Homo sapiens: one gene and its partner. The protein of the gene in region 1 interacts with the protein of each later gene in a pairwise test. Each region holds a gene or a part of one and is shown on either strand. Other genes may lie near its edges.

The links. Proteins that work in one complex are often made in the same cells at the same time.
Region 2: the proteins of DOK5 (region 1) and RAI2 interact in a two-hybrid assay, tested with the Homo sapiens proteins (one large-scale study listed by BioGRID and IntAct).

What each region holds. Positions count from the first base shown.
Region 1 is NC_000020.11:54,594,093-54,597,592, forward strand, and holds part of DOK5 (docking protein 5), read left to right. Parts: intron 1-3,500.
Region 2 is NC_000023.11:17,854,799-17,858,298, forward strand, and holds part of RAI2 (retinoic acid-induced protein 2), read right to left. Parts: intron 1-3,500.

The DNA of each region.
Region 1 (3,500 bases):
GACACAAATTTACCTATGTAACAAACCTGTACATCCTGCACAGGTACCCATGAACTTAAAACAAAAGTTTTTTAAAAAAGAAAATAAGAATACCTATTCATCATTGGGTATATTGTACAAAAAATAAAAGCAAATTAAATGAAAAAAAAATTAGCCAGGCATAGTGGCACACACCTGTGGTCTCAGCTACTCCAGAGACTGAGGTGGGAGGATCACTTGAGCCTGGGAGGTCGAGGCTACAGTGAGCTATGATCTTGCCAATACACTCCAGCCTGGGGCGACAGAGTGGACCTTGTCTCAAAAGAAAACAACAATGACAAAAGAAAATCCCTATAGAAAATGAATAATTTTTTTTGGTAAGGTTGGTATATTTTTCCCTTTGGGTCTCAGAAATTATTTATGCATTAACGATAACCAGTGAAATCTAAGTATTGAAAATGTTTTATAAATAGACTTTTCTATGACTGTACCTCTCATATCATCTCCATTCATATTTCATATTGATGTGTAAGAGAATTCTGCATTGATCAAGACTCTTTGGATCTGTTTTGGGCAGCACTTATTCAATTATTAATATTTTAAAATCTTTTTTTATTTACCATTTACAGGAAATAGTAGTAGAAAAAAAGTATAGCTTTTTATGGTAATGTTTGAGGATCAAAACCTTAGTAAACTTTATTAGTATCTCATATCTATTTTAAACTTGAAAACATGTTATCTTATTAATTTTCCAGGTATAAAATGAACACTGTACATATCCTGCAAACGTTTAATTTATTCATATTGAAATCTAACGGAACTGCTAAGGATTTAGGTGATTACTTAAAAGACCTCGATATTTCTCCTAAGTGCTGTAGGAAACCATAGATACTTGGAGGCTGGTATGTTTGAGTCTCTGTGTGTGTATGAGATGTGTGTATATGGGGTGTGTGTGTATGTGATGTAATTGTGTTAATAGTTTATAAAGGGCTGGGCGTGGTGGCTCATGCCTGTAATCCCAGCACTTTGGGAGGCCAAGGCGGGCAGATCACGAGGTCAGGAGATCGAGACCATCCTGGCTAACACGGTGAAACCCCATCTCTACTAAAAATACAAAAAATTAGCCGGGCGTGGTAGTGGGCACCTGTGGTCCCAGCTACTCGGGAGGCTGAGGCAGGAGAATGCGTGAACCCGGGAGGCGGAGCTTGCAGTGAGCTGAGATCCTGCCACTGCACTCCAGCCTGGGTGACACAGCGAGACTCCATTTAAAAAAAAAAAGTTTATAAAGGTCACTTTGATCACATTGTGCACGGTAGGATAGAGGAGATAGGTATGGATGTGGGAGATATTGAACCAGTTCAAGTGAAACAATGGTGGATGAAAAGATATATGGGTGACAAAGTTGAGAACTATTTCAATGGTCTTTACCAACATGCTGACTTGGAAGATATAAGTGTTTTATCCCATGACTTTGATGACCCCTTTATGGTCCATCCATTTGCTTATTTCATCCAAGAACTCCACTGGTTAGATGATTATAATATTCACAACCCAGGCCACTCAATGTTATATCTCCAATATCGTAGGGACATAGAATATTTATTGATTTTGAATAGCATTATTTCTTATGCATTGGTCATGTTTTGCAGGGCTGGTGCAAACTTGAGATTGAATGGTCAGAAAGGAAAGTGTGGGAGTTGTATGCTTAGCATCTTACTTCTCAAACAGCTTGGTGTAGTATACAAAGTACTGATTCAGAATTTAGAGAGACCCTGAGTAATCTCTATTTTTTGCTAGCTGCTAACCTTGGACAAAGTTCTTAACTTTCCTTGTAAGTTGATCAGAGTAATAACTTTCTTGCAGGTTTGTTGTAGGTAAAGGCAGAAATGCATGTAGATGACCTGGAAGGATGCTGGGCTTCTCCTAAATAGTATCTTTGGTATTCTATTATGATTACTTTTGGAGCAGAACATAAGCTTGCAGGATAGTGTTAAATGCAAGGTAAAATTACTATTTTATATTTTGCTTGAAACTCAAATAAAGATAAATTTTTATACTTACCATCAAGATGCTCAGGATAATAAGATCATTCGTGTTCCACACCAAGCGTGAAGGTTTCATGTCTGCCTTGCTTTATTAGTGAAGATAAGTTTTTTCCTTGGCTATTTTTGGATGTGTTGAAACAAAGCAGTTTTATATCAACCAGTATAATTTTCCCCTTCTCTCACATCGAGAAGTGAGCAGGAGTTGTCTGTCTAAGCAAGTAGTTTTCACATATCCAACATGCATCTGCAAAAACTTAACAATATCCTCTAGAACACAGGGAATCTTTCTTGGACAAAGTTCTGCTCATGTTCAGCCTCTCTCTTAGAACTAGAACTGAGTGTTATTCCTGCTCAGTGGCTCCGTTTCACCCCACCAAAGCTGACAGTGGGGCATGTGTAACAGACTGAACTGGAAGTTGGAGGAAATGAAGTAAAATTACAGTTCTATCACATACTGGCTGTGGGAACGTGGATATGTCACTTAACTCACCGAGCTTTTTTTCATTGCCACCTGTAAATTGGGAACACATATATTACTTATCTCAAAAGATTGCTATGAAGATTAAATAAAGGCACATGTAAAGACACCTGGAATAGTGCCTGAATGTAGTAGGCAGTTGTATCCACCCAAACTAGTACTGAAAAGAAACTCATTGACTTCCATAAACTCAAAGTCTGAGGAGTAAAGATGGCTTCAGGCTTGGCTTGGCTCAGTGTCCAAATGATAATCCCAGGTTTTATGTGACAGTTCTGTTTCTTCTAAAATAGCTTCATTCTAGCTCCATATGGTGACTTTCAGAAGCTTTGAGATCTCCCCACACTATCTCAGTAAAAGAGAGATATATTACTACTCTCTGCTGTCATTATATATACTATGTGTCAAGCACTGCACTTTACACAAAGCTCACAGGGTACAAATGCAATGAGGTTGGTTCACTGAAGGCAGGAAGAGGGTACTGTTGCTATCAGAAGAGGAGTGGAGGTGAGGCTTTTAAAAACTAACAAAATATGTACAATATAGCATTTAATAATTGCTCAAAACAAATAAGGTCAAGAGGCTATTTGACTGTAATTGACATTTGCACTCACAATAGTGCCGATTTCCAGAGCAGTGGTTCTTAGCTAGAGGTGATTTTGCTCCTAAGGGACATTTGATAATGTCTGGAGACATTTTTGATTGTCACAACCTGGGCAGGGGGTGTTACTGGCATCTAGTGCATAAAAGGGCCAGAGATGCTGCTACAGGCACAGAATAGTCCTTGACAACAAAGGATTATCAGGTCTAATCATGTGGTTGAGAAACCCTACTCTAGCAGGTGTATGAGCCATTGAAAATCATCACTACCATTTACTGAGCCCTTACTATATGAAAGCCTCTGTACTAAGAGGCTCATTACCTCATTTGAGCTACTCATTATCATACAAACTAGGGGATACAGTTATTTCCCTCTTAAAATGAAACCTGGGCAATGGCAA
Region 2 (3,500 bases), on another chromosome or scaffold:
CTCCAGTAAACAGTCTGCTTCTGCCATGTGAAACAAAACCAACTCCTTCTGAGGAGCCCAAGGGGGTCAGCCAAGGGTCCCCTGTGAGGGCAGCCCCCTCAGGAGCCAGAGCCACAGGCGCCTGACCTGTAAATCACTGCAGTCCCAAGTTCATTATCCCATCCCTTTCCGTCTATTTATGCCATGACCAGTGCCTAGGGAAGGACCCAGAAATGATGTGATGTGATGATACCATAGTGCCAGCCAAAATCCTTCTTCTACCTCCCTGAACTCTCCTTTGGCCAGGTTTCTTCATCTGCTGTGCTATGGTTGTGTGAAATTGACCTTCCTTGCATTTATTCTGTCTCCCTCGCAGAAATTTTATTTATGTCCTTGCTCTTGTTCTCATCAAGCTGTCAGGAAATGACAGTGTGCATTCTCTTTTTTATTTTCTCTCCTTTAAGGCTGGCCCTGGCCCTAAATAACCCACTGTCAGCATGAGGGTGTCTACTGGCGACATTACTCTCCAAGCACAAATCCCTGGGATGGATAGTACTTTAAGCTGCTACTAGAGCAGGTGTCAAGGAATTCTCCGATGGACAAGGACACCGGCCTGTGGGGTGGGTGGGGTCGAGGAAAGGAAAGAGCCATTTCATTCAAGCCAGTCCTGCCTGTGCCCATTCTATTGGGTTTCTGGGTCCCACATTCCTCATAGAGCATGAGACTGAGCCAACATGCTCATGGCTAGTTTCCACGGGGAACCTCCATCATGGCACCTGAGCTACTGAAAATCAAAATCGCTTGATGCCAGGCTGCTGTGGCTACTGACTCAGCCCCCTGCCTCCCACCTGCCATCGAGATGGAGAGCGTTTATGTCCCCAGAACATCTGGAGGCTGAAGTCACGAGGTTGGTTAGTTTGCTCCAGAGCAGCTCTGTCTAATAGAAATGTTTATGTAATTTAAATTTTTTTTGTAGTCACATTTAAAAAAATAAAAGAAGCCACTAATTTTAATACTCTATCATATTTAACTAATATATTCAAAATATTATCATTTTACCATGTAATCAATGCAAAGCTTATTAATGAGCTATTTTGGATTCTTTTTTTGTATTAAGTCACAGAAATCCCATGCATCTGTTATATTTAATGCACATCCTAATTTGGACCAACCACTTTTCAAGCACTCTATGGCTGCATGTGGCTAGTGGCTAGTGTGTGGGACAGTGCAAACATGTGACATTTCCATCATCATAGAAAGTTTTATTAGACAGTGCTGTGCTGGAAGACCAAAAAGTTGTGGGAAGAGGAGTGACAGGTGTGAGCAGAGTGTGCTCCAAAGTTCTCTAGAATTACTGAGTTGTTGGAGCTAATTACAGCAGAAATTGGAATTACAAGGATTGGGATGTTCAAGGAGCCCAGCCCTATGTCTCAGTAGAGATTAAAATGGGCTTTTATGAAAGGCCCTGGGACCATGCATAGTCTGAATGTGTCTGTCCCCTCCAAACTCCTGTGTTGAAATCCTAATCCCCAACGTGATGGTATTAAGAGGTGGGGCATTTGGTTGGTGATTAGGTCGTGAGAGTGGAGCCTTCATGAATGGGATGAGTGCCCTTGTAAAAGAAGCCCCAGAGAGGTCACTTGCCCCTTCTACCATGTGAGGGCACAGCAAGAAGATGCCATCTCTGAACCAGGAAAAAAGCCCTCACCAGACACTGAATCTGCCGGTATCTTGATCTTTGACTTCCCATCCTCCAGAACGGTGAGAAATATGTTTCTATCATTTATAAGTCACCCAGCCTATGGGATTTTGTTATAGCAGCCCAGACGGATGAAGGCAGACCATGCCCATGTTTTGCGGTGCTGCCCCACAGCAGTGGGAAGGCCAGCAAGTATGATCATGGCTCAAGACATCTGCTGGCTAAGCTGCCTCCATCTTAGCTGTTCTGGTCTGTTCAGGGCAGGGGCTGGGAGAGAACACCAAAGTCACATACTTCTTCCAATAACAATTCTGGGTTTGAATCTAATTTGGTGAAGCAGATACAGAAACGTGATCAAATTATGTGTGCCTGTGTCTGTGTGTGCATGTGTGTTCGTGTGTGTGTTCTTGGCAGGAGAGAGGAGGGTCATGTGTGAACTCCAGAAGTACTAACCTGGCCGCCAAAATCAGCTTCTCACCAGCTGCCATCAGAGGACAGTGAAGTGGCAGACTCAAGAGGCTCATCAACATTGTGAGCCATGAAGGAAAGGCTTTGAGTCTGGAAAGAATGAGATGATGGGCACCCGGGCAGACGATCAGGTGGGAGGGAGAAGTGGTAATCAGAGGCATTCTCCAAAGACAAGAGCTGCCAACTCTACAGCAAGGATGTCACCCTGATCCCCAAATCAAGCTTAATTCAGAATCCCACGCAGGCTTTTGTGTGTGGGAAGAGTGCAATTAGCCATCTTTCCCCCTCATTCTCTGAGGTCTCCCTCATATTCTGTTCAGGGAGGCAGCATTGAGGAGCTCCTCATACATAGATTCAAAGCCCAGCTCCCTCGGTGGCTCCAGAATTTCTAGGAGTTTGAAGACTACCACCTGGTTGGAAGGGGGCTACGGGGCTTGCTTTAACGATACATTTGCATAGCAAGTTCCCTCCTCATTTTCCTATAGAGTGTTTGTTTATTTGAGACAGTTTCTAGTTAAAAATACCTCACCCAGCCTTTGGTCCCTCGTGGACTTTGAGTTAGTTGCTTAACCTTTCTGAGCCTTAGTTTCCTCACCTACAAGATGGGAATAATCTTGCCCATCTCCCATGGATTTTGTAAAGATTAAACTGGGGCTTGTCAGCATGGAGCTACCAAGGGCTAAAACTGGAATATGACACCAGGAACTTCAGGCCCCCAACCAAACGTACAAATCTCTGGATCTCTCCTTGCTGGGTCTCCCTTAACAATGATCTACAGCCCCCTCCCCACTGCCATTCACTCCATCAGTGCCATCATTTAGTCACTCAACTCTCATTTATTAAGCAACAGTTGGGTGGTGGGGACTCCAAGATGAAAGGGTACAGTCTGTCCATCTGACACAGGGTATTTCGGATCTATCTACTTGGCACATAAGTATGCACTGTGGGTGACTGGGTTGCCCACTGGTGGGCTTCCACCTTCCCCCCAATCCCCACCAACTGTGTACCAGATTTTGCCAAGGTGGAGGGGCTGAAAGATCCAGCAGGAAGAGATCCAGAGATTTGTATGTTTGGTTAGGGGCCTGGAGTTCCTGGTGTCATACTCCAGTTTTAGTCCTTCGTGGTTCCATGCTGACGTGTCCCACTTTAATCTTTACAACGTCTATGTGAGATGGGAAAGATTATTCCCATCTTGTAGGTAAGGAAACTGAGGTTCAGACAGGTTAAGAGAAATAAATAAGAGACCTGGAGCAGGGGAATAGGGACATGTTGCCCCTTTAAATCATAACCACCAAAGTCTGAAATCAGATACACAACTGGAAATTTATCTGAGCCTCAGATTCCTTATCTGTAA